Regions from separate parts of the Homo sapiens genome. Here region 1 is linked to region 2. The links come from fine-mapping of genetic effects on gene expression. A gene starts in region 2. The other region holds a variant in brackets. All regions are shown on one strand. Distances are between the middles of the regions.

Evidence for each region. PIP is the estimated chance that this variant, and not a neighbour inherited with it, causes the effect. A credible set is the group of variants that fine-mapping cannot tell apart.
Region 1: its variant is the best candidate, but not a certain one, in a credible set for the expression of SLC67A2 in whole blood (TOPMed, PIP 0.62).

The regions. Positions count from the first base shown.
Region 1 is chr2:102,712,644-102,717,951 of GRCh38, forward strand. It overlaps SLC67A2 (solute carrier family 67 member 2), which reads right to left. Exons shown (of 6, transcript NM_032718.5): 6 at 1,987-5,308. Among named protein-coding and RNA genes, the nearest start is that of SLC67A2, 22 kb to the right of the region's middle. The variant T/C (reference allele first, on the strand shown) is at 2,533.
Region 2 is chr2:102,733,830-102,739,153 of GRCh38, forward strand. It overlaps SLC67A2 (solute carrier family 67 member 2), which reads right to left and starts at 3,059. Exons shown (of 6, transcript NM_032718.5): 1 at 2,817-3,059. The coding sequence starts at 2,981. It also overlaps a transcript of TMEM182 not described here. RefSeq lists a silencer at 2,966-3,175.

The DNA of each region.
Region 1 (5,308 bases), 21 kb before region 2:
TTATTGCCTTAATAATTTTTAAAGATTATGCAAAGATGTGTATTAACACATCAAATTTTAGGTTTCCATGAATACATAGTTTGGCATCTGATTAATAAATAATAGATTTGCTACCATAACTATGTCTTACTATTGAACCTTTAGTTTAAGTCCTGACCTTTAGCTAGAAAGTTATTTTGAATGGCAGTAACAGTTCATCATGCTTTCAGTGCTATTCACTCCAAAGAGATGCACAGTGAAGGTACTTTGAAGGTGCCCCAAAGAAAATGCTCACCCTTGTCAGTGACGTCACAGACTGGGCCTGACAGATGTTAGGCTTTGAGATGGCCAGGCCTATGCTTCAGCCCCACAGAACAGACTACTTAAGGCAAACACCTACCAAGTCGCATACATACAGCCCCACAAGGGTCCAGCCCGAGTCAGCGGCAGAACACCTTTATTAGGTTTGCTTTGGATATTTCATGTGGTTTCAATTTCATTAAGCAAACTTGGGACAGGTTTAGGTAGGTAAGCTATCACACAAAAAACTAGTTCTGTCTGGATAAGAGGCTGTGTCTCAACTACTCAAAATGGCATGGAGATTCTTTGGTAAGCTTGAAGGAAGACTGTCTCCTATCCATGTTATAAGTTGCAATCATTAATAGGTATTTTAACCACTTTCTTCCTCTACAGTGGATGCTTAGAAAAAAGAACTGTATCAAGATGTAGTATAAAGACTGATCAAAATACAATTCTTTGTTCAAACAAGATCCTTACAGTTCATTCTTACGCTGTGTAAGTTATCAGCAATAATTAACACTCCTTCCTTAATGTTTATAATTATCTTCTCCCTGGAAGGAACAATACAAGCTGTGTTAAGTCACTTTTAAAAATAAGAATCAGTGGCCAGGCACCGTTGCTCACGCCTGTAATCCTAGCACTCTGGGAGGCAGAGGTGGGCGGATCGCCTGAGGTCAGGGGTTTGAGACCAGCCTGGCTAACATAGTGAAACCCTGTCTCTACTAAAAATACAAAAATTATCTGGGCGTGGTGGCGCGTGCCTGTAGTCCCAGCAACTCGGGAGGCTGAGGCAGGAGAATTGCTTGAACCCGGAAGCAGAGGTTGCAGTGAGCCAAGATTGTGCCATTGCACTCCAGCCTGAGCAACAGAGTGAGACTCCATCTCATAAATAAACGTTTCTTATAATATACTGAAACAGGAAAACAGAAGTTTTGCTTTTATTGTTTTAGTAGACAGCTATCTATAAAATGGTGTTTAGATACCTGTTTGGGAAAAATGAGAGATCTAAGTATTTGTGCATCTGCTTAACTAGAAATAAATCCTACTGTGAGATGTTACCTTAAAAGTACAGTTGACCCTTCAGCAACACAGAGTTGAACTATACAGGTCCACTTAAACGGGGATTTTCTTCCATCTCTGCCACCCCTAAGACAGCAAGATCAATCCCTTCTTCTCCTCCTCCCCCTCAGCCTACTCAAAATGAAGGTGGCAAGGATGAAGACCCTTATGATTCCATTTCCACTTAATAATATTATTTTTCTTTTTCTTAACATTTTTTCTCTAGCTTACTTCATTGTAAAAATACAGTATATATGTAACACACAAAATACATGTCAGTCGACTATTAATATTGTTGGTAGGGCTTCATGTCAACAGTAAGCTATTAGTAGTAAATTTTTAGAGAGTCAAAAGTTACACTCAAATTTTCTACCGTTTTGGGGGCTTGGCACTCCTAACCCCTGTGTTGTTCAAGGATCAACTGTCCTCTACTTACTGGCCTTCAGTATAAATGTCAGATTACATATATATTTGGTATCTGCATAATGGTTTTAAAAGCCAAAGCCTTGTTTTTAATATTAAGATGTGTTCTAGCATACTGGAGATGACATTTTTCAAAGCACTTCTGGATCCTGAATTGAAATATGTAGCAAGACACATCAGTGACTTCTAAAAATACAACTTATAAGAATAAATGACAGTTCCTCATTACAATTATAAAGTTTTATTTTTGAAGAAAATTATCATGTGACTGGCAAATTCAAGAAAAAAACATTAGAGCTGAAAAAAAGTTATTTTAATCCATCAACCTGTTCCAAGAAAAGCTGCTACACATCATCCTGGCTAAATCTGTGGTAACCCTGTTTTAGAGACTTCTTGAAGGCTACTAGGGGGCAAAGAGGCATGGAGATTCAGTCTCATGGCTTTTATTATGCATTCCAAATAAATAGCTGTTTTCTGAATGCAGTTGCCCAAATGCCTAAAATTTTCTGACTGGACTGATTCTCACTCCTGATAGATTTCTAAATACCTTATAGAAGTGTCTTCAGGAAAAGACGCCAAGCAACCCTTTGAAATTCCTCAAAGCTGCACACTCATCACCTGGGAATTATTCACAACCTCTCCTGCGATTGCCCTGTGGGCCACAACCTCTGCCTGCTGTCCCTGTCCTCGCGACCAGCTCTCCCTCAGGGCCCCCCTAAAGTTACTGCCCCAAAGTCCAGACTACTCCTTGGGCCTCCAGTTAATCCTCCT[T/C]GCTGCGGCTAGAGAGCTCTTTCTAAAACAGGAGTGTCTTCACAGCACTTTACCGCAGGAATTCTTCCGTCATTCCCCTTCATCCGTCAATACAATCTCAACCCGAGCATGGCAGCCGAATCCATTCTTGATCTAACTCAGTGATTCCCAACTCCAGATGTTCACAGAAACATCTGTGGTGCTTCAGAGTCTGGTTCCTGTGGTCTAAGGCATGTAGCCAGGATACAGAATCAGTGATTCCAGCTCCTTCTGTTGGCCCCAGGTGCAACTCTTGCAGAATTCACTCCCCAAGGGGCCATCCAGCCTGAGTTTGGAGCCTTGCAGGTGACTCCTGTGACTAGACACACCCTGTACCTTTTCAGAATGTTATTCATCCCTCTAGACATGAGGGCAGAGGCCTACCTTCTGCTCTATGGAACCCAAATCCTGGAGACCTGTTCCCAAGCAGTTATGGCTGGCAGAGTGTTGGAAAGGGTGACACTTCCTTCAAAGACATTTCAGGAAGGTTCAATACTCCTAAAATAAGATTCCATAGAATAGTGAGTTGCACCCTATGAAGATATTTTTGACTTACAAAAATAGCAACTTCATGTGGCTCAACCTGACACACTGGAAAGGGCTACAGAAGTTACTCAAGAGAATTTAAAAAATGAAACACCACAAATGTCAATTGAGCAGATTTAATTTCCCTGAGATTATATTCCATAAGTGATACAAATACTACCCCTTAGACCAGGGGTTTTCAAAGTTTGCTGTGCAAAAAATCAGCTAGGTATCTTATTAAAATGGTCCCCAACATGTCTGAGCTGGAGCTTCAGTGTTCACAGGTCTCAGGTGATGCTGATGCTACTGGTCTCTGGGTCACACTTTAAAGAGGAAGACATTAGATAAAGTAAAAGGAGTCATGAGAAAAGGTGCACCTAAAAAACATCACATAACAAAATACTAAAGTCACTAGTGGAGAATAACAAACATGTCTCTCTACTCTATATTCTAAGATCAGTCTTTGGTTTTCTATATTTCCATGTGTCTGATTATAAAGACTCATTAAGTTTATGGGCTTTTTAAACTTCAAAAATAAAGTGCTACGATTTTTAAAATAAAAACACGACTATAAGGGCTTTTAAGAAACTTGCCTGTTTCTGAGAGTGAAGGACAATCTTTGAGATCCAAACTCTTCTGAAATTCTATTTCATTGCATAAACCCTCGATTATTTATTGCCTTTTGAGTCTAATCTCCATGAGATTTAATTTGCTCCTTAAGGGCAAGGCCATTTTATATATTAATAATAGTTTGGTCTCCTCGAAAGCACTTAACATTTACATAAAAGTTCACAATTGTAAAACCTAATCAGAAGTCCATTTTTCCTTGCAGCAAGATAGGAAAAAGGACAATCTTCAAACTAAAACATACTTCCAATTATTTATCATAAATATTTGATTTTACTCCATGACTTCTAAAATACAGAAATGTTTACTGCTTTACAAACAATAAATATTAAAGATATGACAAATTACTGTAGCATACTAAAATATTTACAAGTATGCATGTGTTAAGTTGAAAACAGGCATACCATCCTAGTGGACTAATTAAGAAAAGTAAAAGGAATGTGAACTTCAACTGTCTGACAGGAAGCCCTTAAGTAACTGATTAATACTTGATGCAATCCCAATGGTCATCCTGCCTGGCATATGTCTCCCTGCAAGGCTATGTTCACCTTCTGTCTGGGCCTCTGCCTCTCGTGGCCCCCTCGGTGCTGTATATGAAACTTGTTTAGACAAGAAATGGCACATCAAAATATTTCCGTTGATCAACAGAATGCTTGTGTTTGCAGGCGTGAAACTAAAAATAAAGGAAATGATTCTTTTTTTTTTGAGACGGAGTCTCACTCTGTCGCCCAGGCTGGAGAGCAGTGGCACAATCTTGGCTCACCGCAAGCTCCGCCTCCCAGGTTCACGCCATTCTACCTCAGCCTCCCGAATAGCTGGGACTGCAGGCGCCCGCCATCACGCCCGGCTAATTTTTTTTTTGTATTTTTAGTAGAGACGGGGTTTCACCATGTTAGCCAGAATGGTCTCCATCTCCTGACCAAGTGATTCACCTGCCTCAGCCTCCCAAAGTGCTGGGATTACAGGCCTGAGCCACCGAGCCTGGCCAGGAAATGATTCTTAACACAAGACACAGTAGCATCAAGTTCTGGTCTGGCATGACTCCTGACCCTTATTCTGCATAAACTGTTCATTTTTAAAGCATTCCTGTGCTTTGGCTTCACCACTGGGTTCTGTCAGCACCAGAAGGATGCAACCTGACTGGAATGCAGGCTTCCAGGAGCAGGCTGTGGCAACCCCAGCATCTAAGTGGTTTAGTCCAACTTCAGAGCAAGCTGGGCTCTCAGAGGCAGGGAGCACAGGGAACAGGTCCCAGGGGCCCGCTGCTCCATCATGCAGTACAACTGCTGAGAGCTGGGAAAGGTGTAACACACTGTGATTACAAACACAATTTTAAGAGTCCAAATTTAGTTAGCTGTGTAAAAACAGCCAAGCCTATGTACTTTAATCAAAATCAGTGCAGTCTCAGTGTGGTCTTTACTGCCATGAGAAATCGCCAGCAGTGCTTACAAAACACCACGGATTTCTTGGCCCCACCCAGGCCCACTGAATCATCTCTAGGGGTGAGGTCAGTATCTTATTTTTAAGCAGCTTTGAAAAGCGACAGGCTGGTTCTAATAAACCAGCTTCTTCAATCTGCAGGATTTTGATAGAAAACTCCCTCCTA
Region 2 (5,324 bases):
GGTCAAGAGACTGAGCTCTATGGAAGGTAAGTATGAAAATACAGACTCAAAGGCAATAACTGATGATTGGTATTACTTTAGCACTTGGTGAGTCTGAAAAGTACTATATTCTTCCAAGGAGACTGGCCACTGAATCTTTCCTCTCAGGAAGTTCTGTTCTAAAATTGCCTTCTCCTTTACTATAAAAGGCAACTCCTTTCTGCTTCTCAATCCATAGCTTCTTCAAAATCGCTGCATTTGGCATCTGGTCATGTGCATGTAACCACTTGTAAAAAGATCATGTCAGAAGGGGCCACTTAAACTTTCACTGAATATCAACATTTTTCAATAAAAATTGATGAATATGTACACTCAAAAGTTTCAAGACTCTTTTCAGGGTAGGAACCCCAGTAATTATTGATTACTGGACTATCTCAATGAAAATGAATTATCACCTGAATAAAGCTGATGGGATGGAAAACAAATCTCACCAAGTATCTGGAGGAAAAAAGTGGTTGAAATAATAGATCTCATCACCATCTAAGCATCCTAAACAAAACGGGCCTCAAGGGTCATCTTGGTCTTCCCTCCTAAACAAATTAAAACTTGGAAGTACGGATAACTGCTAAAACAGAACAATTTGGCAAATGACTTCTCTAAGCTTGTTCCCTTCCTCTCCCATTCAGAAACCATTTGTCCAAGAATCTTAGAGGTCTCTACATCCCTAAATATGTCAAAAAAAAACTAAATTATGTATAATGTTCCTTAGATGTTACCTAACAATCATCTGTTAGGTAGCTTTATGTGACTTTCATGTAAAGCTTCATATATTTAATTGTTTACAATATTTTCCATTAAAAAAATCCCTACTCTTTCAACTTTTGGGAAACCATAAACTTTTCCCTTAAGATATGAGACACCTAATGGTTCTCTTGAATACATTATTAAAGTTATTAAAATTCTGTATCAGGCTTGCTAGATTAGACTTGCCAAATACACAGCATAAAGAAAACATATGATAAATTGTGAATATTCAAATCTGTATTGGAAGGCTGACCTTAACAAATGATCTGCGAATTGCTTTGTTTTATTCTAATACTAAAACTACTTTGAATTCTAAGTCAAATTCTCTGAACCCTAGTCTGGACTTTCCAGGTAAGGGCTCAAATGTTTTCATCTGGCTGAACCAGCCCAAGTCCCTTCTGAGACAGGACAGCAGTAGCTTGGGACCCATAACTAAAAAGGCTGGATGTCAGCCAACTCCTCTCCAAGAACCACCCATACTCACTGGTTGTGAATTCTAGGTGCCTAGACTGAAAAGTAGAAGAAGCATCCCCATGCTGAGAATGAACTACTAGATTAAAGGAATAGTGGTCAGAAGGAGTGCCAGTCTCTGAAGTTAAAGGCATGGAGCTGGAGGGTGGATCCTGCAATGGCCTAGAGGCAGAGAAATCCTCTCTAAAAAGCCGCCCTCCCTGAAGACCTTGTGTTTCTGGGCTTGCAGCAATTTGATGAACATGCTTTCATGGTGATCTTAACTATTAACTCAACATAGAGTTGCTACCAACTGAACGCCTTGCATGGAGGTGGTGGCATGGAGAGTGCATGAAACTGGGAGAAGTGGTGGTCTTGATCTGCATCTGGGCAGAAAACGATGACTCCCTGCCAGGGCCCAGTGCCATCAGATACTATCTTCAAGGCCTCAAAGGCAGCCTTCTCCCATTGACACTTATCGCAGCTTCCTTACCCTCAAGATACTGGATTAGCTCACACTCAGGGCTGAATCAGGCCTAGCCTTGGAAAGGGAGGAGTGCAGAGGTGGATCTAGGGTTCTTGCAGATAATGGCCCAGAAACTACCAACATCAGCTTACTTGTAAGACTGAATTCTTCTGTGGCAGAACTGTGGATTACAATAGTGAAGCTCCGCAGCACCTGCCACATGGCAGGTGTTCAGAAATGCCATGAATCAGCTTACTAAACTTTCCATTCTACGTGGGAAATTAGCACTCAGGGAGCAAACCAGGACACGCGCGCGCGCACACACACACACACACACACACGATGAAACCAAACCGCCATTGTGCAATGCACACCCTTTGTCCAAAGGTAGATGGGTACAATTCACTCTGATCTGCATTTTTAAACATTCAAGTCAACCGAGAGCTCTAGTGAAAATGCACCCAATTCTGTACAAGTGGGGTCATCAACAGCGGCTTCTCCAGCCTGGTCTGGTAAAAAAGCAAACCACAGGCACACACATCATGATGAAACCAAACCTACGCTGTGCAATGCGCAGTTTGTCGAAAGGCAGATGGGTAAAATTCACTCTGATCTGCATTTTTTAATATTTAAGTCAACCAAGAATCCTAGTGAAAATGTGCCTAAATCTGTCCAAGCGGGGTCAAGAGCGGCCTCCCCTGCCTGTTCTGGTAAAAAGGCTTGCGTGTCCCTACCTCACCAGCAGCCGCACAGCAGCTGGGCTTTTCCAAGCTTGCCCACACCCCTGTTCTCCGCCCTGCAAAAGCTGCACCTGCCACAGCATTTAACACCTGGTCACACCTGAGGTTGGTACCAGGGCTTCTCAAAAGGCAGGGAAGGGAAGACGTTCCGCGAACGGGGTGCAAGAGAAAGCGCGAGGGGCAATAAAGCAGTGTGGCCAGATGCAGACTGAAGTGGGTGATAGGGCAAGAGGAGAGCTTGATAGGTAGTGAGGCACTCACCAGGCGGACTGCGGGTTCCCACTCCCTGGGAGCTCCCCGGAAGCTCCAAGAACCGCCTGGGTCCCCAGGCCCGAACACAGTCAGCACTTGCTCCCAGCCCCCACGCTCGCACTCACCAAGAAGCCCACCAAGTAGAGACAGAGCAGGAAGCGGCGGGCTCCGACGGCACCGGAGTCGGCAGCCTCCGCCTCGGTTCCTGTCTTCTGCTCCTGTTTCCGCTCTGCGGTCTCCGAGACCAGCCTCGGGGCCGAGTTCATGTCCCAGTGACCCCCAAGCTCCATACCCGCGCCGGCCGGGGGTCGGACGCAGCAGCAGCCGCGGACCTACCCCGGGAGCCCAGCCCCGCCCCGAGCGGAAGCAGGAGGCGCGCGCCTGCGCAGAGAGAGGGGGCGGGTGCTACCTGGCAGCTCCGCGGGTGCGTGGCCGGTGCTGGCTGGGAGTTCTGGTCTCAGGCAAGGTGGGGACTGGGCACATCATCAATACGGTAAGCACACACCAGTTTGTGATGATAATGATGATGCTCTTTGTTTCCTCTGGGTACAGACCCTGCTGCCCCTATCGTTGGAGGACAGGAGGGAATTGTATTGAGCTTCACTTCCTCCTATGGAGTTGTGCTAGGAGGTGACCAACTCCAGCTTGAAGATCCACAGACCCTGGCCACCAGTTGGTTGTGACAGACCTAGGATACGTTAACGTGGCTCTCCAAGCTTTCGTTTGCCTATTTAAAAAGCAGTAGGAAATAATGTAGTCCAACTTCTAGAGGTGTGAGAATTCTACACATGCTTCTTAAGATCCTTTCTGGTGCAGTGCAATGTGAACAAACCATAGATGGTCTATGCCTGAGTTGAGATTACAGTCTCATGGAGTAAAAATAATAAGCACGCAGTAAATAAACATAAATAAAAATACTAAACATGCAATGAAAAAGCATAAAATAAGTAAAATAATATGGTGATAATATAAAGAAGCACGGTCTTGATGTGGAAAGTAATGAGGTGGGGAGTGAGCTACTTTAGAAAAGCAGTTTGGAGGAGGTGACATGTAAGCTGAGAAGAGTGGAAAGAAGATATGTGTGGCTGAAACTTCCTCATCAAACTGAGAGGTCAGCAGGAGTGCAGACCATTTAGGACCCAGAAGGCCATAACAGAGATTTGGGGTTTATTCTGAGTGCAGTGAAAGGAATTAAGTGAGTGCATGACACCAAAAGATGCCTTTAAATTACTTAGCAAAGCCCATGACACATGGTAAGTAATAAATGTTAACAATAGTGACTAGCCCCTCTTTTCTTTAGAACTTGTTATTTATTCCTCTTTCACTGTGGGATCAAGAAGACTCTGACATTTTACTGAGATTTTGCTCAAAATCTCAATTTACTTGTGTAGGTTGCTAATTCTGAGATCTGTTAAATTCAGTGTTGCAAAGTTTCTCATGGGAGGTGGCACTGAATAGGGAGAAGTGGAATACTGATACTTAGAATTAAGACATATAATTGAATCCAGGTGAAACTGTCAATCGTGAACCCCCAAGTTATTCTGAGACTCCTTTGCAGGAGAACTAGTTTGCTCTCCTATAGCTGAGGAAACTAGTCTTTTTGTGCTTGAAATTTTGTGAGTAACTCATCTGGGAAAGGCGCCTTGAAAGGGCTGCTCATGTTAACCCATTAAAACCACTCACTGTGGCTACTAAATACATAGCTAGGGTGAAATTTTAGCATGCTCTGGTGACAGGTACACATTATAACCTAGGAGGACATCTCATACACGCCAAAAGAATTGGAAGTCACGGCCAGGCGCGGTGGCTCACACCTGTAATCCCAGGACTTTGGGAAGCCAGGGTGGGCAGATCACAAGGTCAAGAGATCGAGACTATCCTGGCCAACATGGTGAAACCCTGTCTCTACTAAAAATACAAAAAATTTAGCTGGGCGTGGTGGTGCGCGCCTGTAGTCCCAGCTACTTGGGAGGCTGAGGCAGGAGAGCTTGAACCCGGGAGGCAGAGGTTGCAGTGAGCTGAGATCGCCCCACTGCACTCCAGCCTGGCAACAGAGGGAGACTCTGTGTAAAAATAATAATAATAAAAGATTTGGAAGTCTCTGCTAATATATAATCAATGTAAACTTTAGAAACCTGGGGGAGAGATTTCTAAGGGTGTCAGACAAAAAAAGGGAATAATATAACACTAAATTAGGCAGAATTCACTAGTATAGATGCATTTACAACATATACCGATGTAATATGTTAGCTTGTGCAGCTGGAGGCAGCTCTAGTAGTTTAGTCAGTTGGTTGAAATTTAGACTCAAAGATGGCCTATATTTAATGATGTTCAGATGCCAGAGTTTTCCTGGCAAAATGTGGATAAAGGACTCCAAAAGTTTTGGAAAAATGACAATGTCAGAGTGGATTTATTATGTATGACTTGCAAGCCTAATACTCAAATATATTCCACGAAGAGGCCAAGACGACACTTCCTGCACTAAGGCACTGAGGAATGTATTAGTGAGAGATGCACTTGCAGTTTTGAAAAGATTTGCGATTGCTCTCTTTTGTAGGCCAGGTATAGCCATAGAGGATACCACCTTTAAGATAAGCTCTCTGATTATATGAGGAAAAGATTTCCAGATTATC